Homo sapiens: one gene and its partner. The protein of the gene in region 2 purifies or fractionates together with the protein of the main gene of each other region. This does not show direct contact. Each region holds a gene or a part of one and is shown on either strand. Other genes may lie near its edges. The genes, in order: KLHL25 and IGFN1.

Evidence for each region.
Region 1: the proteins of IGFN1 (region 2) and KLHL25 purify together in Homo sapiens (co-immunoprecipitation; 2 studies listed by BioGRID and IntAct, with this or other methods). This does not show direct contact.

The regions. Positions count from the first base shown.
Region 1 is NC_000015.10:85,776,393-85,792,450, forward strand, and holds part of KLHL25 (kelch-like protein 25), read right to left. Parts: exon of another isoform or gene 9,826-16,058; intron 4,319-9,825; exon of another isoform or gene 4,234-4,318; intron 1-4,233. UniProt on the Homo sapiens protein: Substrate-specific adapter of a BCR (BTB-CUL3-RBX1) E3 ubiquitin ligase complex involved in various processes, such as translation homeostasis and lipid synthesis.
Region 2 is NC_000001.11:201,198,515-201,209,608, forward strand, and holds part of IGFN1 (immunoglobulin-like and fibronectin type III domain-containing protein 1), read left to right. Parts: intron 1-819; coding exon 820-864; intron 865-1,094; coding exon 1,095-1,140; intron 1,141-1,722; coding exon 1,723-1,897; intron 1,898-3,204; coding exon 3,205-3,318; intron 3,319-5,223; coding exon 5,224-5,392; intron 5,393-6,567; coding exon 6,568-6,840; intron 6,841-7,568; coding exon 7,569-11,094.

The DNA of each region.
Region 1 (16,058 bases), on a different chromosome or scaffold from region 2:
GCAGGAGAACTGCTCAAACCTGGGAGGTGAAGGTTGCAGTGAGCCAAGATCGTGCCACTGCACTCCAGCCTGGGCGACAGAGAGGCTCCGTCTCAATCAATCAATCAATAGCAAAAAAAACCTTTATGCATATTTATTCAATATTGTATAGATCTTGTTATTTAAACTGTAACTGATCTGAATTATATTTTTCAATGTGCATATTTATTTAGTTTGGTTTTGTTTCATCTTTTTATTGTGAAAAGATCTGAGGCCGGGCACGGTGGCTCACGCCTGTAATACCAGCACTTTGGGAGGCTGAGGTGGGCGGATCATGAGGTCAGGAGATCGAGACCATCCTGGCTAACACAGTGAAACCCTGCCTCTACTAAAAATACAAAAAATTAGCTGGGTGTGGTGGCGGGTGCCTATAGTCCCAGCTACTCGGGAGGCTGAGGCAGGAGAATGGCCTGAACTCAGGAGGCGGAGGTTGCAGTGAGCCGAGATGCCACCATCGCACTCCAGCCTGGGGGACACAGCAAGACTCCATCTCAAAAAAAATAAATAAATAAATAAATAAATAACAGATCTGACACTTGCAGTGAAGCCACAAGAATTGTGAAATGGCACCTTCTGGTCTCAGGTGGACAGTTTGCTGGGCAGTACTTAAACCTCCCAGCCCTCAGCCTCACCCCAGCTTCCTTGCCTCACTTTGGCCCCCATGCCTCCTGCACAGGAATGGGCTGCCCATGGGGCAGTTCTAGAATGGAGCAAGGATCAGGGAAGGGCTGAGAATGTCTGCTTCAGACAATGCTTGGTAATAAACGGGCTTCCCCTTCAGGCAATCCCATGAGGTCCCTGCATCAAATAGCTCCCAGCCAATGCTCACCCCAATAGCACAGAACCACAGCCCTTCCGCAGCCTCTGACAGTGCATACAGTGAGACCACCTGGCTTCACCTGCTTTCCTGAGGTCAAGATCAACAGTGCCACCAACCAATGCTCTCAAATTGTGTCTCCTTCCCCACCCAGACACAGACACAGTGTCCCTTGTGGACAATGAATCAGAGGATTACTCTACACATGGCCCTACCCGTCAGCCTGCAGCCAAAGCCTGGAAAGCGAAGGGAGGTCCCGACAGACCCAGAGGGCCGGCCGATGTTTCAGTGCCTTCTCCACATGCTCCAGCCTTTTCACGTAACGCACCCAAACATTAAGCACACTTGAAGGGCAGCCACTTTAACTTCCAGGATTGACCGCAGAGTCCCAGGGTGACTGCAGCCTCTGGTCACCAGGGAGTGGGAGCTGTGATTACAAGTTGAGAGGGACGCCTTCTCCACTCCAGAGGAACGGGTCAGGCGGTGCACCACGCTGGGCCCTACCCAGTTTGGTGAAGCTCTTCTTCACAAAGAAGGCACAGAACAGGAGGTAAGGGGTCAAGGCCTGTGAAACTCTGCTGAAAGATGAAGCAACACGTGCTGCTAAAAATCAGCAGGGGATTCTGGCCAGGAAGGGAGCCAAATCAAATGCACGACTATCATGTACCTGATACTGTGCTAGGCATTTTACATACAAAATTTAATCCTCACAACCAAGCTCAACATGGTTATGACTTTCTGTCTTAATCAGGACGGATGAGGTTCTGCCGCAGCAAGGAACAACCCCCAAATCGCAGCAGCTGTACAGGAGAAAGATTTTATTTCTTGCTCATACTATTAATACATGCATCATGGTTCAGGCGGTAATGAGTGTTCTCATCAATCCCACTCCTAGGAACCCAGATGACAGAGCTGCCACCATGTCACCAGTCACTATGCCAAAGGGCGGAGAGAGAGCTCTGGAAAGCATAGCACTGACAATTAAATGCTTGGCCTGGAAAGACACACAGCACTTCTATTCACATCTCACTGGCCAAATCCAGCTACACGCCTTCACTCACCCACCAGAGAGCCAGAAAGTCCAATCCTGCCATATGCCACACTATTTCTGTAAAAAATTTACCGATAAGAAAATAGAAGCTTGCAGGTTAATGATAATGGCAACAACAGTGCTAATCACAGTTGCTTAGTATCATATGCTGGGCACCGTCTCAGCACTTCACGTGTTAACTCACCTCATCCCTACTCAGCCTTAGGTATAACCATCGTCTGCATTTCACAGCTTAGGAAACTGGGCAGGGAGGTGTTAGGCAATTTGCCCAAAGCTACGCAAGGAGTGGGGGCAGAGCCCAGGGCTCTGTCTTGCTGAGTCTGTTCCCACAACTACACTATGTGAGCTCACTGACCCAAGACTGGGGAAGGGGCGGCGTTCAAATCCAGGCCATCCCTCTCTTTGCTGAGCACCAAAGGGGACAGAAGAGAGGTCTGTGGGGCCTCAGCCCTGTGTCCACCAGCAGGTCCCAGCACCAGGACACTGTCCTCTCCGTCTACCCCTTAAGCAGTCCTTCTCCACCAGCTTCTGTGCAACCAGGACAGAGGGATCCCGAAGAGGATTAAGCTCCCAGGCCCCATGGTACCCACTTCTCTCCTATGGGTCACTGGTCCTAGTAGGGAGCAGCCTCTGTGATCAGATAGGGAATCAGGACTGAGAAAGTTCACCTTAGAGAAAGGACCTATCCAGGACTTGCCCAGCTACTCAAAGGCAACGTATGGATTTGGCCAGCTCCTCACCAACAATTTTTTTTTTTTTTTTTTTAAAGAGAAGCCATCTTGCTAAGAAGAGAAGCCAGCCGAACCCTCCCATGGGAGGAACTGTTCAGGCCACACATCCAGCCCGGGGCAGGTGCAGATAGATGCAGCCATGGATGGGCAGCACCTGCCTTTCTGCCCAGCGTCCTGTCTTTTTGAGTGGGAGCTCTACAGACCAAGTGAGAGAGGCCAAAAGCCACACCCAGGAGCTCCACTGTGTTGTCTTTTACTGACATTAACAGTGAGGAGCAAGACAGAAAAGACACTAATGCCCTAGAACCACACTGCCTGACCAAAGTGAGCAGGGAGGAGGCAGTGGATGGGGACACACAGCTTAGTTCTTGGGGAATGAAAAACTCTTCTTCATCGTATGTATAAGGCATAGATACACATGTGGTATTAAAATGCAATGAGGAGGGTGGGTGCAATTAGGAAAAAACATCTAAAATGGCTTAGGGGTAGGGAGGTGCCAACAAGATTGAGAAACACTGCAAACACAACTACTATTTTCACTATGGCTTATTATTTTCAGCTTTTATCCCAAAACAAACACTTTTAAATTATTGCAGTTACAGAATACTATTTTACACTGGTTTTACCTCAACTTTTCACAGAGTTGCCATTTTCCTATTCTGCCCTCACTACTGAACAAAGACTGATTAAAGGCCTGCCAAGTGCAGGCACTGGGGACCCAGCCTTCTGGAGCCCTCAGGAACCTTAGTCTAGTGTCTTTGTGGTTGTCAACTGTAAATTGTAATGTCTGTGGAAACACATCACTATGGTTTACAAATCCATTCACCCATAATTTTCTGAATTTTTATGCAAGGAAAAACTAATGCCTTTTGCTTCTGTTGGTTCACTGTATTCTCTTGAGATAAATCCTTTTGAGAAAAAATGTTTTTATGTCATACCGTCCTAAAAGTTCTATTTACCAGGTAGGCCACCCGCAAGCCACACTTAAACCACCCTGCAACGAAGAGGCTTCTTTCAGCTCAAGGAGGGGTGGCAGCCCCTCTAAACTGTCAAGGCAGATGGAAGGTGCCGCCTGGCTTCTACCTGCCACATGCCAACCCCCTCAGGTTGGGGGTGCTGCCCAGGCTTTCTCTGGACCCCAGAGCTGGGAGTCATCTGCAAGCCCAGCTGCTGCACCAGACGGGAGTAATGCCAATAAAGTGGACTCCACTGCTGTCACCACAGAGGGGACAAAGAACTCAGCACTCAGGTTCACCCATCTGGTGAAGTAACTCGTTTCCTTCCACTTATCCAGAGCAAGCCAGAGACAGAAACAAAGAGGGGCAGCGAGATTGGCTCCCTCCAAAGCAAACGTGGCCTCCTGAGGAGGATTCCCCCTCTATGGCAGGACTGGCCTGGCCCTTTGCAAACAGATGCAGTCTGAGGACCTGGAGGGAGGCTGTCTCTCTTCCTGTCTGGTCCCACAGATGGAGCCATTAAAAGCACTCTGGCCTAGATATCACTTTCAATGAACCACCAGGAGTGACAGTCTTGGAGGAACACAAACATGCAGAACAGAACAAAAAAAGAACAAATGCCAAGCACTGGCCACTTACTGGTAGTGAATTTCTTTCTCCCTGTTCTCCAGAAGCTCTGTTCTTCTCTAGGCTGTCAACGCTGATGCTGAATCAGAATGAGAATGCCTCTCAATTCCCAAAGCCCAAGACACAACTCTTTCTTTACCCGCTGACAGAGATGAGAGCAAGGGGAGCATAGTTGGCACAATCTCTTCAGACAACAATTGGGAAACATCTTACAAAATGACAAATGCATGTGCCCTCTGCCCCAGCATTTCCACTCCTAAAAATTTCCCTTCCATCATGCCTGCACATGGTTACAAAATGGTTACACACCGCAGCATGGTTACAAAAGGAGGGGCTGCGAACAACTACAATGTTCACGAATAAGAGGCCTGGTGAGATAAACCTGGGTACACGCACAGAGTGGAGTTCCACACAGCTATCTAAAAAAAACCAAAGGGGCCGGGCGCAGTGGCTCATGCTTGTAATCCTAGTACTACTTTGGGAGGCCAAGGTAGGTGGATCACCTGAGGTCAGGAGTTCCAGACCAGCCTGGCCAACATGGTGGTGGCGGGCACCTGTAATCCCAGCTACTCAGGAGCCCGTATCCCAGCCCGTATCAATGAACTTTTGTACTCAGTGGCATTCCCATCTGACAGCCTGTCCTGCACTTTGAATGGATTGTTTACCCATGTGTGATTCTGTAACATCAGGCATCGGCCATTTGGAAAACATCGGTTCACTGAGTTATGCACTCTGGAGAGAATGAGTGAAAAGGGCAAATAATGTTTTAGTATTACCACAAAAATAGTTTTGACCTTGTGGACTCTCCACCAAGAGAATCTCAGGGACACCCAGACCACACTTTGAGAACATTGCGGTAGCGGATTTTTCTTTTTTTGTTTTTTGAGACAAAGTTTCGTTCTTTTTGCCCAGGCTGGAGTGCAGCAATGGTGTGATGTCGGCTCACTGCAACCTCCACCTCCTGGGTTCAAGCAATTCTCCTGCCTCAGCCTCCCAAGTAGCTGGGATTATAGGTACATGCCACCATGCCGGCTAATTTTTTCTATTTTTAGTAGAGACGGGGTTTCACCATGTTGGCCAGGCTGGTCCTGAACTCCTAATCTCCAGTAATCCACCTGCCTCGGCCTCCCAAAGTGTTGGGATTACAGATGTGAGCCACCGCGCCTGGCCAGAAGATTTTTCTTATCTTCCACACTAACCACTGTTTTTTTTAAGAACTAAGAAAAAGAAAATTCTGTAGGAAGCATGGGGGCCTATGCAGGGGGTCTCCATCCCGTTTGTACTGTGATGCACTAGAGCCTGCTGTCACCGGAGGCAGCTGGACCCAGTACCCTCTCACCCACTGCTGGCTGCCTCCCTCTAATGACCTGGCCCTGCCTGCTCCTCCCTTCATTATCAAAAGCCTTCTCTCACCCACAGGACCACCTCATCCTTCTCCAAAAAAAAAAAGACCTTGGGTTTGCAGAGGACAGGCCCTCCAGTAGCAAAGTACAGGGGCCGTGAGTAGACTGCTACACTTGGGCTTTGCAGTTGATAATTCTCGGTCTCTTGAAATTACATATGTACGTTTATTTATAGCAAAAACATGGGTGCCCATAAATAGCCAGTCATTCATATACACATTTTTAGCATATGGTTTAGCCACCAAGTTCCACTGCATCATCCTTCCTGGGACCTTGCATTGGGGTTTTCCTTCCCAGTCTTGCGTCACCACTGCAGGCCAGGTTATGGTCAGGCCCCTGAACCCTTTCTTCCCACACCTACCAACCCAGTGCCAAATTGTGAGCGCTCCTGCTCAAAAGCCTTCAAGGAGGCTTTCACATCCAAGCTGTGTTCAATCGGTTCCCTTTCCAGCTTTGTCCCACCCCCAGCCCCTCTTCCTCCCTCTCTCGGCTTTAGCTCTCCCCCTCCCTTCCTCTCATTCTCCCTGCTCAGCCCCACACCCTCACCTCCCCAATCTCTCCTTTCATAGCTACACCCCACTCTGGATTTTACATTTGTCGGGTATGTGGATGGCCTTGTCCACAGTACATGCTCAGAAAATGAATGCAGTAAGTACACTGAAATCTGAGCACCTACAATGTGGTGCCCCATGCGACACACAGGGCATATGGCATGCAGTAAATAACATAATTTTGTCTTGTCTCCTAGAATGAACGTTCTTCTGCCCTCTGTGCCTTTGCTGCAGCACGGTAGCCTTTCTTCTACTGCTGGACAGCACTGTTCACTCCTCAGGTCACTGCGTATTGTGCCCTTCTCTGTACTGGCAGCTCAAGGACATTGTTCTGTGTCATCTTTGCTACCTAGAATCGATTAGATGCTTAATAAATACTGCTGAATGAAATGGGGATTAGCCACAATACCCACGGGAGAAAGAATCAAAATGATCCAGAGATCTGTTAGACCCACCTGAGAGTTCCCTGGTGCCTGCCTGGTACCTGCCGTATTATATGCAATATAATCAACATATACCATATTTAAACATTTTATTTATTATTTATTTTGAGACATAGTCTCACTCTATCGCCCAAGCTGGAGTGCAGCAATGCGACCTCGGCTCACTGCAATCCTCCAGCTCCTGGGTTCAAGCTATTCTCCTGCTTCAGCCTCCCAAGTAGCTGGGATTACCACGGCTGGCTAATTTTTGTATTTTTTTTTTTGGTAGAGATGAGGTTTTGCCATGTTGGCCAGGCTGGTCTCGAACTCCTGACCTCAGGTGATCCACCTGCCTTGGCCTCCCAAAGTGCTGGGATTACAGGCATGAGCCACTGTGCCCAGCCATATTTAAACATCTTAGGCCAGGAGTGATGGTTCATGCCTATAATCACAGCACTTTGGGAGGCTGAGGTGGGCGGATCACCTGAGGTCAGGAATTCAAGACTAGCCTGGTCAACATGGTGAAACCCCCTCTCTACTAAAAATAGAAAAATTAGACAGGCTTGGTGGCAGGCATCTGTAATCCCAGCTACTCAGGAGGCTGAGACAGGACTATCGCTTGAACCCAGGAGGTGCAGCTTGCAGTGAGCTGAGATCGCACCACTGCACTCCAGCCTGGGTGACAGAGCAAGACTCCACCTCAATAAAAAAAAAAAAAAAAAAGAATTTTAAATGCTAGATGGGAAAAAGCAAACCTTAACTCTTTTCTGGATGGTGTTCCATAAATCATACAAAGCGAATTGCAGATACCGACCTTGGGCAGCCTACCAGGAAGGTTAGATGCTAAGAGTCCCTGGTTTCAAATCCCAGCACTGCCATTGCTACCTGTAAAACTGGTCCAAGATACTGAAATTCTCTGAGACTCAGTTTTCTCATCTGAAAAACAGGGGTGACAATAACTGTCCTGACCTCGAGGTACCATCCTCAGAATTAAGAGAGAATACACGTAAAGAGTGTAGCATGGTGGGACACAAATTTTGCTTGATTCATGACAGCTGCTGTTATTAATCATATTGTTATTGATGCAGGTCCATGGATGTCGACCTGATTCCTGTGATCATGACAGAGATTTTCAAATCTAATTAATGTGTGCTACATAGGTAATTAATGGTGTTACTGATCAATTGGTTGACCTTAAAGAAGGGAGATTATCTGGGTGAGCCTGATCTAGTCAATAAGCCCCTTAAAAGCAGAGTTGGCTGGGCACGGTGGCTCATGCCTGTAATCCCTGCACTTTGGGAGGCCAAGGCAGGCGGATCACCGGAGGTCAGGAGTTCGAGACCAGCCTGGCCAACATGATGAAACCCCGGTATCTACTAAAAATATAAAAAATTAGCCAGGCTTGGTGGCACACACCTGTAATCCCAGCTACTCAGGAGGCTGAGGCAGAAGAATTGCTTGAACCTGGGAGGCAGAGGTTGCAGTGAGCTGACGTTGCTCTACTGCACTCAGCCCAGGCAACAACAGCGAAACTCCATCTCAAAAAAAATAAAAAAATAAAAAAAAAAGCAGAGTTTTCTCCAGCTGGTCCCAAAAGTAAAAGAGTCGGAGATTCAAAGCAAGAAAGGATGTGACACATCACTGCAGGTTTGAAGATGGAGGGCATTGAGACTAGAACCCGGCTGCAGCCAGCAAGGAAATGGGGACTGACCTCAGTCCTACGACCATAAGGAACTCGATTCTGCCAAAAACCTGAGCCTGGAAGCAGATTCTTCACCAGAGCCTCAAGAGCCCAGTACAGCTGCACCTTGATTTTGGACTTGTGAGACCCTAAGTAGAGAACCCAGTCAGGCCAGCCCAGACTTCCAGCCTACAGAACTGTGCATTAATCAATAGGAACTGATTAAGCCACTAAGCCTGTGATGATGTGTTATGCTGTAACAGAAACCAATATAAGCCCCACCTGGCCTCTAGTCATAATGTATAGACATTAAAAACACACCAGGTAATTATCCAAAAGGAGCAGAAGACAACTCACGCTTTCTGCATTTTCAATTCCTGGACATGTGATGCTAGAGAGCAGAGACTGATGTATTTCTTTTTTCTTTTTTTTTTTTTTTCTGAGACAGTGTCTCTCTCTGTCACCCAGGTTGGAGTGCAGTGGTGTGATCTCGGCTCACTGCCAGCTCCGCCTCCCGGGTTCACACCATTCTCCTGCCTCAGCCTCCTGAGTAGCTGGAACTACAGGCGCCCACCACGACGTCCGGCTAATGTTTTGTATTTTTAGTAGAGACGAGGTTTCACAATGTTAGCCAGGATGGTCTCGATCTCCTGACCTCGTGATCTGCCTGCCTCAGCCTCCCAAAGTGCTGGGATTACAGGCATGAGCCACCACGCCCGGCCAACTGATGTATTCCTATATCCTGGTCCTTAGCAGAGTGGGTAGTATAGAGCAGGTTCTCAATTTCATTTAACAAAGTTTCAACCTTCTGGGCAGTCAGAACTACATTGCTTACAGCTTTGGAGCTGCCCTGGCAGCCAGGTACAATTATCTGAGCAAAACCCAGCAAAGTCCTTTTTTTTTTTTTCCACCTAGAGGAAACTCCAGGCACAGGAAGTGGTTCAGACAAAGCCACCCAGCAACCAGGGTAGGTGTGTGTCCACATGCAAACGTGTCTTGCTTTGTACAACACAGCAAAGGACCATGTGCAGTGGCCCCTGCCTCAGCCCGCAGCAGCCTCCCACGGCTTAGCTAACCAGCCAAACCCTGGCATTTTGCTTGTAATTGTACCTCCCAGTAAAAAGTCCTGGTTGGAGTGGTAAAAATAGCAACTGCAACTTCCTGCAACACAGATATACCAGTTGATGCCTGAAAAGAAACCTGGTGATTCGACCTCACTCCAACTCAGCGAAATGCCTTCAAGCTGCGCTCACAATGGCAGTGGGACAGGAGCCCAGCAAAGGCAGCCGACCCACCCCCCCGCCCCAGGAGGACCCATGCAAAACCAGCTCTAGAGTGAGATGCTTCCCTTACTCTCTTAATGAAACACCCAACTCTCAGAATCAGGAGGTGTCTAATAAACGCAAAAACTGCTTTCAGCGAGGCCCCTCCCCTTTCCCTTCTCCTGCTCACTAGCTGCAGAGGTATAAAGGCAGAAGCCCTCCCTACCAAAGCCCTTTGAGGGTCCCATTGTCCCCTTGGTTACCCTCTCCCTTCCCCCTACCTACATCTGTCCCTGAGATTGTTCCAAGTAGGTCAGGCTGGCTGGGATCACAGGAGCCTCCTCTGAAGCTTGGTTCTGAGTCATCTCCAGGGCAGCAGGGGAGTCATGGCCAAACCTGGATGTTGCTTCCTGAAGGGTGGGGAGAGCCTGGCCAAAACGTCCCCAGGTACCCAGCAGTAATGAATTCCTCTGGGGCCCAGGCCATGGTCAGCAGTTCCCTGGCTCCTCTATCATGGGGCCCGATGCCTCCTGGGACCACACAGGCAAGTAAACAGGGTTTAGTCTGTGGTGGCCACTGCCCCTTTCTGGGCCTTTCTCTGGACCAGCTACGGAACTCTCTCTGTCCTCCTGGCTCATTTCTTTATTCCTGCAGACAGGTGACAGATCATTGACTAAGCCAGCCCTCTGAGAAGAGCTCTCAAGCCCAGCCAGATGGCTCTCAGCCAGGTAAGGCCCCGTGCATCTCTGGGACAATAGGCAGACACCTCCCACCTAAGGCCAGCTCCACTGCACAAGGGCAAAGTCACCCCAGCTCCTCCCCTGGATATGCTGGCTGTTTAGAAACACCTGAATTCACTCAAATGTTCCAGATATTTCCATTTCGCTAGTAAAAACCATGCCTCTTCATGTTTGCAGAGCTTTTCAGCATAAAATGAACTTTCAGGAATGTTTTCCCATGCAAAAAATACAGCAGCCTAGTGGGGGGCAGGGGCGGGCAGGGATTAAAGGGCTTCATTTCACAGATGAGTACCCAGCTGAGGTCAGGAGACCAATAAGAGGCAGAACCAGCACTCAATAAACTTTGATCTTCTGGAAAGACAAAAGTGGACTAGAATCAAAGGACAAAGCCTGAATAAACATTTTTTTTAATGGAACAATGAGATTCCACCCGCCCCCCCACCCCATCACATTAGCTAAAACTAAAAATGTGGATAACATCAAAAATTTGGGGGCTGGGCGCAGTGGCTCACGCCTGTAATCCCAGAACTTTGGGAGGCCGAGGCAGGTGGATCACCTGAGGTCAGGAGTTTGAGACCAGCCTGGCCAACATGGAGAAACCCAGTCTCTACTAAAAATACAAAATTAGCTGGGCGTGGTGGCGCTTGCCTGTAATCCCAGCTACTTGGGAGGCTGAGGCAGGAGAATCGCTTGAACCTGGGAGGCAGAGGTTGCTGTAACCTGAGATCATGCCATTGCACTCCAGCCTGGGTGACAAGAGCGAAACTCAGTCTCAAAAAAAAATTAGGTGAGTCTGTAGAGAAATGGGCATTCAGGCACTATTATTAGTGAAAGAGTAAACTGGGTAAATCTTTGCAAAGGGCATTTGGCTTTGACAATGAAAATTTAAAATAATCACACTTGCTCAGAAAGATGCATGATGAAGGACACACAAGATTTCATTGATCATACAGGGAAAATGAGGCATTACCTAAAGTCTCTCCTTAGGACACAATGAGAGGAAATGATGGTTTGGCTGCAGTGTGGAATATGACGACGCTGTGAAAAAGAGCTCCACCACACACTAAGTGGTATAAGTTGTAGAGTATTGAGTATGATTCAAATTATGTAAACACAAAATCTGCACATACAACGGAGGACTAGAAGGGTATGCACCCATCTGTGGACAGATACAAAGGAGGGGATGGACCCTCACACTGTGCTCCATCTTTTCCTATATTTTTCATTTATAAAGGAAATCCTAGCTGGGCGTGGTGGCTTGCGCCTGTAATCCCAGCTACTTGGGAGGCTGAGGCAGGAGAATTGCTTGAACCCGGGAAGCGGAGGTGAGCTGAGATCGCGCCACCGCACTGCGGCCTGGGCAATGAGAGGGAAACTAGATCTCAAAAAAAAAAAAAAAAAAAAAAGGAAATCCATTGATATATTATTTAAATCAGAGAAAAACAATAAAATGAAAGAGAACAATGTTATCCTCAGTCTCTCCCTGCACCAGAAGACTGCAGAATGTCAGGGTCTGGCACCTCTCTGTGCCTCATGATGTCTCTGTCCGCAGCCCACGCAGGCCCAGCCTTTGCACGAGCTGTGCTACCCACCTGGCAGGCCTTTCTCTGATCCTCCCACGGCTGGCTCAAATGTCACCACCCCAGAGAGGCCTTCCTTGACCCCTCTTCGGAGGGCATCCTCACTTGACCATCTTCCCACACCTCCCTGTCCACTTCCTCTGCAGCTGCATATTTTTGTCAGTCTGTTGTCTGCCTCCCTCAGCTGAATGTGGGATCAGGAGAGGGTCGGGGAGGACCTTGCCTTGTTCTCCACTGAATCCCAGAGCCCGGCAGAGAACAGATGGGGGAAAAAAATTCCCTGGACACATTTGAAATGAGGAAACCAACAGTCCACTTCCTCACCTCATCAATGAGGAAACTGAGGCAGATTCTCAACATGCCCACTATTGAGACCCTAGCGCTGTGCCATACCCGCCTGTCTGCCTCCCACATCAGACGCTGAGCTCCCAAGCAGGAGCTCTTTGAACCTGACTTTCTTTCCTCAGCTTCTAGTCCACGGCGAGCCATTCAGAAAACTAAATAAATGTTTGTTGCATGAACAAAGCTGGGTACCTTTCTCCCTCAGATTTCCAAGCCTGTGAACAACAAAAGCGTTCACAGGTTAAGGGACTTGCTGCCAAGGTCTCACAAGCCCAGCTGGCTAGGGTGCAGAACATGAACTCCGGACAATGGATGGAATCGCCATGGTTTTCTAGAAAAAGAGCTCCTCCATCTCTTGGCCCTCACTCCTCTCAGACAAATTGGCCTGGCCAACAGCAAACCTGGCTGGCAGCTTGTCCTGGAGTTTGAATGAGCACAGCTTCTCCTTATCTTAATTAGGAAATTAATTCTGCTCAGCCTAGATGGATCTGTGGTCAGCCTCTCCTTGGGGGCCCAATGGGAACAGGCAAAAAATGTAAGCAAGGCTTTTTTGTCTCCATCCTTTCCCTGCATCCTACTCCTCACCACTCGGCTGATGGTGGAAGGCTCCTCCTGGCAGAGATGGGTGGGGAGTGACACCTAAGGTGAATGTGGCCCTTGAGCTGGTGGCAGCAGGCACAGCGCTCCCATGGCCTGCTCAGCCCTGCTTCCCCGTGGGAGGAGCCATCCAACTGGTCTTGCAGGCTGGTGCTCAGTCGCCTCCTCCTGCCCTGCTGGGCTCCCTTGAGATCCCTTTTTTTTTTTTTGACAGAATTTTACTCTGTTGCCCAGGCTGCAGTGCCATGGCGCGATCTCGGCTTACTGCAACTTCTGCCTCCGGGGTTCAAGCGATTCTCCTGTCTCAGCCTCCCAAGTAGCTGGAATTATAGGCGCCTGCCACCATGTCCAGCTAATCTGCTGAAGATCTCCCTTGCTCCTCAAAGCTCGTTGTCCAACTCTCTGCTGGGAGGTGGCCCTGGCTCTGTGCCCAAGGGACATCCCACCAGGGAAGTCTCACCCTAGTCATTCCAGAGGGGGTCATCCTGGTGCTCCCACGAACTGCTGCCCAGCTCCCTGCCCACGACCAGTCAGAGCGATGGCCCTGAGAAATGAGTAACCCACACACCACCTTCCCTTGAGCCCACGCCTGCTCCCCTAAGCCCAGCCTGGTGCTCCCCTGATGCAGTCTTCTGTCTCCACCAGCCCCTTCGCAGGAGGCCTCAAACTCTGAGGCAGTGGGCAGGGACAGGGAACTGCCAGAGGCTCAAGGAGAACAGCCCCGTCCCTTTGGAGTTACTGGGAAAATCTGAATCGAGTCTTCAGGAAACTAGGAGCTTGCCTACGTCACCCCTCTCACTCTACAGGTGAAAAAACTAGATCCCAGAGAAAGTAACTTGCCCAATTCCCACAGCACACATCCAAGGCAGAGCTGGAACTAGAACCCCATTCCTGACTTCTTTTGTTGTTGTTGTTGAGACGGAGTTTCGCTCTTGTCACCCAGGCTGGAGTGCAATGGTGCAATCTCGGCTCGCTGCAACCTCCGCCTCCCAGTTCAAGTGATTCTCCTGCCTCAGCCTCCCAAGTAGCTGGGATTACAGGCATGAGCCACCACACCCAGCTAATTTCGTATTTTTAGTAAACAAGCGGTTTCTCCATGTTGGTCAGGCTGGTCTCAAACTCCCGACCTCAGGTGATCCGCCCACCTCGGCCTCCCAAAGCACTGGGATTACAGGGGTGAGCCACCTCGCCCGGTCCATTCCTGACTTCTAAATTGGCCCCTCTGTACTCTACTGGCTGTTCAAGCTCTTCCTGACCAGAAAGGCTAAGCAAGTAACTCGAGCCTTATAAAACTGCTGAACACCAGAGCTTGCAAGAACTTTTGAAATTTTATAGCAAAACATTTAATAGAAGTATTATACAGGAGAGCAAATTGAGGCTCACAGGGGTAAGGGAACCTGCATGTAGTCACACAGGCAAGCTGGGGCCAAGCACGACTCCCCTACTCTGACTCAAGTGCTCTTTCTGCCAACAGGTTCCAGGTCTGAGGGCTCTAGCTATGGGATGGTGAAGAGACGGAGTTGGCCTCGGGCCTTGGTCACGCTGAAACAAGAAGTGGCCCAGGTGAGCCTCATACAGACTCTGTACCCAACTCAGGGAACAGGAGACCACTGTGGGAGAAAAGTATGACCAGGAAGATTTTTATGTATTTGCAGAAAATATGGTGCAATTTCTCAATGAAATTGATTTCTGAGACCACAGAGCTGCCATTTAAAAAAAAAAAAAAAAGGCCAGGTGCGGTGGCTCACACCTGTAATCCCAGCACTTTGGGATGCCAAGGCAGGTGGATCACGAGGTCAGGAGTTCAAGACCAGCCTGGCCAACATGGTGAAACCCTGTCTCTACTAAAAATACAAAAAGCCGAGCATGGTGGCGGGTGCCTGTAATCCCAGCTACTGGGGAAGCTGAGGCAGACAACTGGTTGACTTGAGAGGTGGAGATTGCAGTGAGCTGAGATCACACCACTGCACTCCAGCCTGGGCTACAAGGTAAGACTCAGTCTCAAAAAAAAAAAAAGAAAAATGCCAGGCACAGTGGCTCATGCCTGTAATCCCAGCACTTTAGGAGGCTGAGGCGGGTGGATCACCTGAGATCAGGAGTTCAAGACCAGCCTGGACAACATGGAGAAACCCCGTCTCTACAAAAATACAAAAATTAGCCAGGCATGGTGGTGTGTGCCTGTAATCCCAGCTACTCAGGAGGCTGAGGCGGGAGAATCACTTGAATCCAGGAGGCAGAAGTTGCAGTGAACCAAGATGGCGCCATTGCACTCCAGCCTGGGCGACAGAGCGAGACTCCTTCTCAAAAGAAAAAAAGGTTAATAAGCCACACACATCTATCGTTTATCATCCAACAGGGTGCTGGGACAGGGCTTGGAAGGAAAGCAGGAAAGGTTTAGCAGTAAGAAAGAGTGGCAAGAGAGGTAGGGGGCGGGGGTGAGGTGACTGGGGACTCAGGGGAGGGCTGCAAGTCAGCTGCAGAGCAACAAGCACCCAACCTCAATTCTGCACCCAGGGAACAAAAACAAAAAAGGGAAAGGGGAGCCCGGCATGACTGACACCCACTTGGTGCCAGACCCCATTCTAGGGGATTCTGCATAGTATGGTGGTTAACCTTCACCATACCCCTGAAAAAAGCTAACAAAGCTCAATGAGGTTAAGGAACTTGATCACAGACCCACAGCATTTGAACCCCAGTCTGGTGCCAAAGCCCATGCTCTTTCCACTGCTCCTGGGTTAAAAGGACTTAACAGGGAGCCCTTCCTATCCCCAAACCCCTTCGCTTCCCCACCTAATCCCACAGCACCCCTTCCCCAGTTTCTAACAGCCCCAGAAGGACCTGGAGGCAGTATGGGATGATTATGCCTTGAAGATGACAGGTGTCAGCTTTTGACAGCTTTAGGTTGGTATGGCAATGAGGTGGTCAAGGAAAGGGGTTGGAACCTACTGTAGGGGCTGGGCTGACTTCCATCAGCTGGGGATAGCTGCTGATTGATAAGTCCTGTTGGGATGCTGTGACTGAAAGCTGTGGATGCTTAAGTTCTCCCTCCTCCCTCCTCCCCTGCACCTCCCTCCTCTACCCCCAGCTTGTTCCAACTAAGTGTTTCCTGGTGAGGAAAATGCTTCAACAGCCTTGGCTGGCTGAGGCAATTAAATTATGAAATTTACCACATTAGATGAAAACCAGCATCTCAATCAACCAATTCATTTGTGTCTGGCCACTCTGTTTTCTTGTGCCAGCTCTGCCCACACTGGCCAGG
Region 2 (11,094 bases):
CCCAGGCCCAAGTGATCCTCCCACCTCAGCCTCCCAAGTAGCTGGGACTACATGCATGTGTCATCACACCCAGCTAATTTTTTTATTTTTTTTGTAGAGGCGGGGTCTCCCTGTGTTGCCCAGGCTGGTCTGGAACTCCTGGGCTCAAGCTATCCTCCCCCCTCGGCCTCCCAAAATGCTGGGATTACAGGCATGAACCATCACGACCAGTCCATCCACCCTTTTTATAGAGGAAGCAAAGGCTTTCTCAGAAATTCCTGGAGCTCATTGGTCAGGACAGTGTCACATGAGCACTGCTAGTTGCAAGGGAAGCTGGGGAAGGTGAGTGTTTAGCTTTTTCAGCCTCTCTAGTGGAAGCAGATGATGAAGAATACAAATGGCTGCAGGATTAGCCAAACAGCAATGTCTGACCTATTTGGCAATATTGGGCCTATACCCTGAAATGGCAGCTCCCAGGTGGAGTGAAAGAGCAGCTGCCCCTTTAGATACTCTTGAGTTTGTTGTGGTTGCCAGTGTCTGCTTCACGCATTTATGCCACCTCCCTGGCCCCTGCGGACACATGACTGGGCCTCCCCTGCATGAGATGATGCTTAGGTTGGTCCCCTTGGTCATGGTAAGGCTCTAGGGTAAAAAGGCTTATGATGGACAGACCCTCCACCCTGCTCCATCCCTCTTGCTGGGATCGTCCACGCCTTAGAGGACAGTGGGGAGAGCAGGGCTCTGGGACTCCATCAGTTTCTCAGGAAGACCATCAACATGTCTTGCTTCTCTCCCTGCTTGTCCACATCGACTCCTTCCTCTCCTCCCTGGATGTTGCAGTTGGCTTTCGGAAGAATCGGAAGAGGCACAGGGAACCGCAGGAAGGTAGGCAGATTTGTCAGAAACCTCCTTGGGGGCCTGTGGGGGATAGGCTACTCCTTTCCTGGTGTTCCCTGCCTGGTTGAGCTACCATGAACACCTTGTGGATCACCACCAGTCTTCAAGAGAGCCCCTTCCAAAGGCTCAGTTGTCAGCATGGACAACACAGAAAAGCTCTGCATCAACCCTCAGTCATCCCACCTGGGACTGAGGCCTCATTCCTGCTCCTTTTTCAGACCTCAGGAAGGAGCTGATGGACTTCCGGAAGTTGCTGAAAAAGAGGTGGGTTTGGGCCTGTCCATGAGGGATTTTGGAGGCTCCCATAGTATTCACCCCCTGCTATTTCCATAAGTAAGCTGGGCTTGAGCCCCACCTCTACCCAACACAGCAGGGAGCTAGACTGCCAGTAGCAGATGGGAGGATGGGAAGGGGACTGAACTGGATGGGAATGGGACAGAGCTCCAGCTCTGCCATTTCAAAGCTCTATATCCTTGAGTTAATCATCTCTCCTCTGATTTCCTCATTTGCAAAATGTGGTGGTCCACCAGAACAATGATGTACTTTTTTTTTTTAAGCAACAGAACAATGCAACACCCACTTTCCCCAGACATCCTACTTAGAAATCTACAATACAAGTTGTCAGGAGCATTTCTCCTGAAAGTTGTGGGGTGAGGCTGAGGCTCGCCCCACCCATCTCTGAATCCTTCTGGCCTCAACAGTGGTCAGTCCCAGAGATTCCAGGCTCTGCGTTTCCTCGAGTGCAGATAGAGCAGCTTCCCAGAACTACTTGGGACACCAGAGCCAGGTGGCCAACAGAGGAGCAGGGATTCCTCTGGCCTCTGACCTGCTAGCCTTGCTCCCCAGGGCCCCACCAGCCCCCAAGAAAAAGATGGACCTTGAGCAGATATGGCAGCTGCTGATGACAGCAGACAGGAAGGACTACGAGAAGATCTGCTTGAAGTATGGCATCGTCGACTACCGTGGCATGTTGCGCAGGCTGCAGGAGATGAAGAAGGAACAGGAGGACAAGATGGCACAGGTGCCTCACCCCATTCCCACCCCTCACTCCATGCCCACCCCACACACCTGGACCATAGGTGCCTCACACCTGGAGGTGGGCTTGGAGGCAGAACTTAGGAAACCAAGTATGATCAAGGGGCCTGTCTCCATCTAGTCCCCAGTGGGGTATCTGGCTAAGGCCCTGGGATCCCAGGTTGGTGTCCTGCCTTTGCAACCTGGTTCTGATACTTACTAAACTCTGGAGCTTTGGAAGGGTTAGGGCCTCTGTATCTTGGTGTCTTCATCTGTAAAATGGGAATTATAGTCATGCCTACCTTGTAGGGTTATTGGGAGGATAAATGAGAGAATGTAATTAAAGTACTTAGCTTAGTGCCTTGATTTTTGCTATCATTATCATTGTCACCAGATTGCGGGGGGGAGGTACCTGGTTTATTTCTTTCTTTTTTTTTTTTTTTTTAAGATGGAGTCTTGCTCTTTCGCCCAGGCTGGAGTGCTGTGGCCGGATCTTGGCTCACTGCAAGCTCCGCCTCCCAGGTTCACGCCATTCTCCTGCCTCAGCCTCCTGAGTAGCTGGGACTACAGGTGCCTGCCACCACACCCAGCTAACTTTTTGTATTTTTAGTAGAGACGGGGTTTCACCGTGTTAGCCAGGATGATCTCGATCTCCTGACCTCGTGATCCGCCTGCCTCGGCCTCCCAAAGTGCTGGGATTACAGGCGTGAGCCACCGCACCTGGCTACCTGGTTTACTTCTAAAGGCTTTCATGGAAGGGAATTTCACAGTTCCCATTAGCACTCTGATCCCAGAATCTTATCAGCTGTACAGGAATTTCTTTCCTGTGTCTAACTTAACTATAGCATAAGTCTAATTTTTCTTCTGAAAATGGAAAACAACTAGTTTTTATTATCCTGAAAATAGTATCTTATCCCCTTGAAAGATAAGCTTCCTTAAACCTAACACCTAGGGTCTCAGCCTTCTCTCCTCCAAGCTTTCTCATTGGCTTTAACACGGGACCTAGCACAGAGCTTTGCACACGGTAGGTGTTCAACTAATGTTCGTTAGAAGTACAGATAGATGGAAAAGCCCCACTGTGTTCTAGCAACTGAACACCTGGGGTCTTTTCTTGGTTGTCTTCCTGATCTGATCTCTCATCTTGGAGAATTTCCTTCCTTGAGGGGCTTACTTTCCCCCACTTGTAAAAGGGGCCAATGCATGCTCATCTGGAACGCTGTGGGCCTGGGATGGTACCAGAGCCTATGAGGGTTCAGAGTACCCCGAAGAGAGAGCTTCATGAGCTCTCCTGCTGGGTGTTTGTCTGCTTTGTAGTACATCAACACCATCTCCAGCTTAAGACACATCAGGGTCACCAAGGATGGGAATGCAAAGTTTGACTTGGAGCTGGATCTCAAGGATTCTCAGAGCAAGATTTACCTGTATAAGGTGAGGCTGGAGGGGCTATGGGTGGGGGGGATCTGGCAGGGATGCTTCAGGTCTAGTGGAGAGGGAACTATGGGTACCCTGCATTCCTCCAAGGGAACAACCAGAGCACACAAGTGGTGAGCCCCTCATCCCATGGAGTTCCTGGCTGGACCTGGACCAAACCCTGGTGTAGACCATCCATCCACAGGGACTTCTTATCTCACACTGAGCAACTGGGCTCTCCAGCTGGGCCTGTGATTCTCTGTAAATTGTGTCTAACACCAGAGCACGGGGGTGAAAAGAGGGTTCTGAGAAAGTGCACCCCTTTCCATCTGAGCTTTCTCTCCAGAGACTTCATACATCCCTACCTGGGCTCTAGGAGTAATTATCTGCCAACCAGATGGGGGCAGAGGCAGGTGGGGAGCAGTTGGTAAAATTTGGCTAGTTCTGTAGCCAAACTCATCCAGCTTCATCACTTATAAGCTGTATGACCTCAGACAAGATACTTATCTTCCCCATGCCTCGGCTTCCTCACTTGTGAACTGGGGATAATATAGGACCTGTCTCATGGTGTACTGCAGCGCTAAATGACATCATGTGTGACTTGCCCCTCCCCTCACCTCTCTGCTTATTCCTGCTTCTCTTCCCCTTGTCCCTCAGTTCCTGGCCCACTGGCCTTGTCCCTGTTCCTTTGCCCAGGTGTTCCCTCTGCTTGGCATGCTCATCCCCGATATCGACAGGGCTAATTCCTTCATGGCAGAGAGACTTCCCTTGGCCACTCCGTGTGATTCCACTATGTCCCTCCAGCCCCACCCTGGCACTCAGGAGCCCTGGACCCATATCTACCTTTTTGTTCCCTAGTTTTCTCTCTTTCTTTCCCTTTCTTTCTTTTTCTTTCTTTCTTCCTCCCTCCCTCCCTCCCTCCCTCCCTCCCTCCCTCCCTTCCTTCCTTCCTTCCTTCCTTCCTTTCTTCTCATTCTGTTGCTCAGCCTGGAGTGCAGTGGTGCAATCTCGGCTCACTGCAACCTCTCCCTCCCAGGTTCAAGTGATTCTCCTGCCTCAGCCTCCCGAGTAGCTGGGATTACAGGTGTTTGCCACCACACCCAGCTAATTTTTTGTATTTTCAGTACAGACAGGGTTTCACCATGTTGGCCAGCTGGTCTTGAACTCTTGGCCTCAAGTGATTCACCCGCCTCAGGCTCCCAAAGTGCTGGGATTACATGCATGAGCCATCACACCCGGCCAGTTCTATTTTTTTCTAACATAAATTATTTACTTATTTATGACATCTATTATTTATATTTTTCCCCCATAGGATTTTAGCTAGTGAGAGCAGGAATCTTTGTTTTATGCATTGATGTGTCCTAAGTACCTGAAACAGTGCCTGGCACACAGTGGGCCCCTAATAAGTATTAGCTATTGTTAATATTCAGCAAGTAGCAAACCTATCTAGGGCTTAGTTAAAGCAGGTATGCATATAGATTACTGGGTTTCATAGAGCCTTATGGATATCTGATGTTATTCTCTGCAAGTTCCTGTTGGTGAATAAGTTGAGCTGGGGCCTCTGGGCCATGGGTGTTGTGTCCGGCCTCCCCTGCTATCCTCGCAGGGCTGCTGGAGAGTAACTCTACTCACAGCCTGAGCTGGAATGTCAGCAACTTCAGGTGCCCCTTTGTATAACACTTGCAGACTTTTCACTCCATGGACATTCCTAGAGCATGGATTCCCATCCAGCTCACAATCCCTGTTCCCATGTTCTCCAGGCCCTGCTGTCCACCCCATCCCAGCTCCTCTATGGTTCCAGGAATCTGTTGTCTGGCGACTGGGCCCGTGGGAGAAAACTGCTGGTTATAGCCAGAATGGGACTGGGGCAGGAAGCACTGAGGACCCACTGAGGCCCGCCTCCTCTTCCTTTTCTGGCCTTAGGATGGTGAGATGATCCCCTATGGCTTCAACAACCAAACCAAGCACTGTCTGCGCCGGCTGGGGAAGCGCTATGAGTTCCAGATTCAAGACCTGAGGCCTGAGGACTCTGGCATTTACCAGGTCAAGGTGGAGGATGCTGTGGTCTTCTCCACAGAACTGGAGGCCAGTGGTGAGTGGTCTACACTGCCGAAGTTGGAGTTGGGGAGATATGTTAGAAATGGAGTCCATGTTGGTGCAACGTGTGTGTTGGGGGGTAAATGTGATGTGGCCCCAGCTGCAAAAGACAATTGGGAGAGGGACACATACCTAGATGGCCAAATTTTGATGCTTTCTGTTTTCCAAAGCCTTGGTGCGAGTTATCTCTCCTGGTGCTGAGCTGGGTTCTACTGAATTACTGTCACAGACATAGAACATATGTGTCATGCCTCTGCTTAGACCTTCTCTAGCCATCAATTATTTTCAGATCAGATCCAGACTAATTGCACAGCCTCTAGAACTCCTTTCTGTTGCATGTCCTCATCTCCCACAACACCCTAGCAAGAATCTCTGGGTTAGGCATCCTCACGCTCCATACAGACCTTTCCTTTTCTGCTTCCTGTATTCCTTCCCCATCTAGGAACTGACACTCCTCCTTCATCAAACTCTGTCCCATCCCCATGAGTACCTGTGTCCACATCACTCTCAGAGCACCTGCCAGCTCAAGGGGGTTCTTGAAAGGACAACGAGAGGCCTGGGGAAGGGAGCTTTGGACAGACATGTCGTAAGAACATGGCTGAATCAAAGTTGGGGGAGAAAAAAGGGGGTTATGTGCCCCAGCACGGGGGAGGTGCCCAGATGGGGCTTTGGAAAGCCTGAAAACAGTGCAGTTTGGGAAAAGAAGTATGGGTTTGGGAGTCAGCCAGACCTGGGTGTGAATCTTGGTTTCTCTTAACTGCGTAAGACTGGGGCAAGTTATTTAACTTTTTAAGCCTTAGTTTTCTCACCTGTAAAAAGAAATTAATAATACTTATCTTGGAGATGGTCACAAGGATGAATAAGATAAACTACCGGCTCTTAGCATAGTGGTTTCCTTCATGCATCCACCTTGTCCCTAAATATAACTTTTGGGTTTGGAAGTATAGAATCCCAGAGCTGAAAATAAGCCTCATTGCTCATAACTGTAGCCCCTCATTTTACTTGGGGGGAATTGACACCTGAGGTCCAGAGGTGACCTGTCCAAGGTAACATGGGGAGTTTGTGGCTGAGCTGGTCTAAGCCAGGATTTCTGAATGGCCAGCCTTGCTGCCTTAGGTCACACTGTGTCATACCATCAAGCTGATATCCCCATTCCTATTTCCCCGGCAGCCATCCCCCCAAGAGTGGTGGTCCCACTGGCGGAGACCCACTGTGAGGAGCAGGGTGACGCAGTCTTTGAATGTACCCTCTCCAGCCCCTGCCCTAGTGCAGCCTGGCATTTCCGGCACCGGCTACTCCACCCCAGTGACAAATATGAAGTGTATGTGTCCCCTGACGGGCTGACCCACCGGCTGGTGGTGAGGGGGGCACGTTTCTCAGACATGGGCCCCTATTCGCTGGGCACCGGGCTCTACACTTCCAGCGCCTGGCTGGTGGTTGAAGGTGAGTGCTTCAAAACTCTGTCTTTCTCTGCCTCCAGGGAAGACCTTGGGGCTGCGGAGGCATGAGGAAGGCGAGGCAGTGGGATTTCCTTTGGTCAGAGAGAATAAGGAAAGCTCCTTAGATTATTCTCCACCCACTGCAGTGCAGACCTTCATGGCCAACCCAACCCTTCTCAGCTGTGCCTGCTCTACTGGGTCTCTTGGAATTACTTTGGGGCACAGATGGCTCTAGGGTCCTAGGCAGCCTTGGGACAGTGGCCCAGGTTCAGTCTGGATGAGAAGCCCCTGCACCAGACCAGAGAGCACTCTCAAACTTCCCTGGGGATAGAAATTTGCGTTCCAGATGTTCCCAGGAAAGTGTAAATTGGACATAAGTAAGGCAGGTGGTTGAGCAAGTCGATATTTTAAAAACCATGCACCTGCTGCGGCAGTTTGATAAACAAATGACTTTTGGCTTATGCGTTTTCTCCAAAACCCTCATGAAGCCTATAGCAGGGTGGCCTGCGGGTATAGGACTAGGGAGGTGGTGATGGGATTCACCCATCCATCCCTGGAACACCCTGGCTTCCTTCCCAGGTGGTCACCTTGCTTCTCTCCTGGGGAAGTCCAGGTCAGGCAAGCAGCTGGGCTCAGGCAGGTGCTTTGGCCGGATTTAACAGGAGTTTTGGTATTTTCTCTTGTCTCTCCATGTGGGCACTGACCTTCCATATGAATAACCCCTCACTGAAGCTGGGAAGGATAAAGACCTTCAGTCCACAAGTGCTGACCACAAACTGCAGAGGCAAGGAGCCCAGGCATCAGGAGCAGAAGAGTCTGGGAGCATCGAGAGCCAGGGAGAGAAATCCAGAGAGCAGGGCCCCAGGGGGGGCTCCCTTGAAGGGGCTGGGCCGGCTTCTGGGCTCCAGCACATAGCCAGCCCAGACAGGGATGGCCTTGGCAGACATGGCTACTCCTTGATGGGGGACAAAGGGACAGCTGACTCAGCCTGGGGCCCTGGACAGGAGGGCGAGGGCTTTCCAGTAGCAGAGGGAAGCAGAGCCACTCTTCCCAGGGAAAATCAATCCCACAGAGAGGGAGGCTGGGCCAGAAGCCTTGCAGAGAGGCCCCATCTACAGGGAGAGAGCTCAGAATCAGGGTTGGGCCTCCCAGAAAAACAACAGCAAGATCGTGGCAGAGACAGCAACAGTGATGAATGCTGGAGGAAAGCAGGAGGCTGGGAGGCTGGGTCCAGTCGGCTTCAGGCTGGAGGACTGGGGAGCAGCAGGGAAGGAAAGGAGCACAGAGGGGACAGTGGAAGACAACTGGACAGGCATGCCCCAGAGCAACTGTGGGATGCTCGACTGGGACCTGGGAGAGGAAAGAGCGACCTGCAGGGATGCCAGTCTGATCCTGTAGGGTCCTGGCCAAGAGGAAAGCAGATAGAGATTTCACAGGATGACAGCCTGGCTGAGATGGACAGAGGGGATGCTCCAAGTAGGGAAAGGGGGAGAGGAATAGTAGTGTGGGGTGGTGGGACTGGCCTGGGAGAAGCTGGAGACAGCAATGGGGCAGGAGGTCCTGGCACCCTGGAGCTTACTGGAGGAAGAGGTTCTGGCTCCAAGGTGGGCATGGCCCCTGAATCCTGGGGTTCTCAGGGAGGTAGAGATGCTGACTATGGGGAAGCCAGGGGCTACTGGGGGTCAGGAGAGTTGCTAGAACAGATACCTGGAGGCAAGGACTTCCAGGAACCATCAATATCAGGTGGTAGAAAATTCCTTCTGGGAGATGGGAGTCCTGAGATCAAAGCTGAAGACTCACTGCAGGAGGCAGATGGTATATGCCGGGGGGAGTCTGTAGTTACAGGAAGTGCCTACAAAACTGGCCCTGGAGGCCCAGGAGACCCCAGAGGCTGCGAAGGTGTCCTACAGGAGCTCAGGGGAAGGGATGGCCAGGAAACAGCTTGGGCCTCGGGTGAGGTAGAGTATGACCCCAGAAGCTTCCAGTCTTCCCAGGGCTGGACAGCAGGTCACAGAGCAGCAGGGGGTATTGGCAGAATAGAATCTAAGGGCACAAGTCCTTGGGATGACACACCATCTAGCCTCAGAAAAACTGGGGCCCACCATGGGCCTGGAGTGCTGGGGCCCAGTGGAGGACAAGAGGGTATGGGTGGTATCTGGGTGGCTGGACTGACGGAGTCTGGTCAGGGGGTGGATGCCAGAAGCCACTGGCTAAGTAGGGCTCCAGGCCTGGGTGCTCAGGGATCTGGGGGGACACTAGGAGATAAGAAAGGATTAAGAGGTCCTGGGTCAATAGGGTCTGAACCAGATTTCTGGAATGGGTCAGGGAGCTCCAGAGTAAAAGGACCCAGAGGTGAGACAGGCTATAAGGATGGCTTGGAAGGTCCCGGGAGAATGGAATCTAGGTACGAGGGTGGCTTAGGATATTCTAGGGAAATAAGCTCTAAAAGCGGGGCTGGTTATAGCTATGGCTCAGGGGTTCCAGGAGAAATGGGGTCCGGCCATGGTGCTGGTTGTAGAGTTTCCCCTAGGGCACCTGCGGGAGTGGAGTCTGAGGAAGGGGGTGGGTACAGGCATGGCTCCGGAGCGCCTGGGGGAGTGTGGTCTGGAAATGAAGATTCTGGCCCTGCAGGAGGAGGGTCTGGGAGAGTTGCCAGTCTTAAAAATGGCTCAGGTGGTCCTGATGGAGCACCCATGAATGACACCAGGAATTGGGCCTCTGCATGCCAGGCAGGCATGGACCCTAGGGGAGGGCACCATTCAGATGGTGGCCTAGGGAGTCCTGGGGTGACAGGGTCTGCGGGTAGAGGTGGTCTCAAGGCCCCTGGAGTAGTGGAGACTGTTGGGATGGGATGTGTGGAAGCAGAACCAGAGAGCTCTGGAAGAATAAGGCCTTGGGGTCAGACTGGAAATTATGGGGGCTTCAGAGCCTCAGAGGCCCTGGGGGCCTTTGGAGAAGGAGGCTATGAAGATGGCTCTGGGGGTCCAGGAGCCATGGGACCAGGGTCTCTGAGGGCAGGAAGCAAAGTGGGTGAGGGGGATGGGACAAGATGCCCTGGTGCTAAGGCCTCTGGAGCTGGAGCTGGTTATAGGGATGATACCAGGCACCCTGAGTCACTCGCACCTCACAATGGGGCCGCTTCTGGGAGCCAGTGGGCTTATGGGGCTGGCAATGTGCTGGGTTATGAGGATGGATCAGAACTTCCAGGGCCTCAGGGAACTGGGGTCAGAACAGCCTATGGAGAAAGGTCAAGGGGCCTTGGGCCTAGGAGTACAGGGCCAGGGGGTGAGGCAGGCTTTAGAGATGGTTCAGGAGGCCTCCAAGGAATGGGATCAGCAGATGGGCCAGGTTGTAGGAAGGGTATTGGGAGTTCTGGGGAAATGGGGTCAGTGGATAAGGAAGGTTATAAGAAAGATTTGGGGGCTCCTGAGAATATGGGTTCGGGGAGCAAGGCAGATTATAGGGATGGTGTAGGGGGTTCTGGGGCAATGGGGTCAATGGATGAAGCAGGTTATAGGAAAGATTTAGGGGCTCCTGAGGGAATAAGTTCAGGGAGCAAGGCAGATTATAGGGGTGGTTTACAGGATTCCAGGGAAGCGGGTTCAGGGAGCAAGGCAGATTATAGCGGTGGTTTAAAGGGTTCCAGGGAAATCGGGTCAATGGATGAAACAGATAATAGGAAAGATTTGGGGGTTCCTGAGGGAATGGGTGCAGGTTACAGGGCTGGTTTAAGGGGTCCTGGGGAGATGGGGTCACTGGATGAGTCAGGTCATAGGAATGGGATTGGAGGTTATGGGGAAATGGGGTCAGGTTATAGGGAGGATTTGGGGGCTCCTGAGGGAATGGGCACAGGGAGCAAGGCAGGTTATAGGGATGGCTTAAGGGGTTCTGGAGAAATGAGGTCAATGGATGAGGCAGGTTATAGGAAAAATTTGGGAGCTCCTGAGAGAATGGATTCAGGGAGCAAGGCAGGTTACAGGGGTGGTTTAAGGGGTTCTGGGGAAATGGGGTTAATTGAGGCAGGCTATAGGAAAGATTTGGGGGTTTCTGAGGGAGGGGGTTCAGGGAGCAAAGCAGGTTATAGGGGTGGCTTAGGTTCTGGGGAAATGGGGTCTGTGGATAAGGCAGGCTATAGGAAGGATTTGGGGGCTTCTGAGGCAATAGGTTCAGGGAGTAAGGCAGGTTTTACGGATGGTTTAGGAGGTTCTGAAGAAATGGGGTCAGTGAATAAGGCAGGTTATAGGAAGGATTTGGGGGC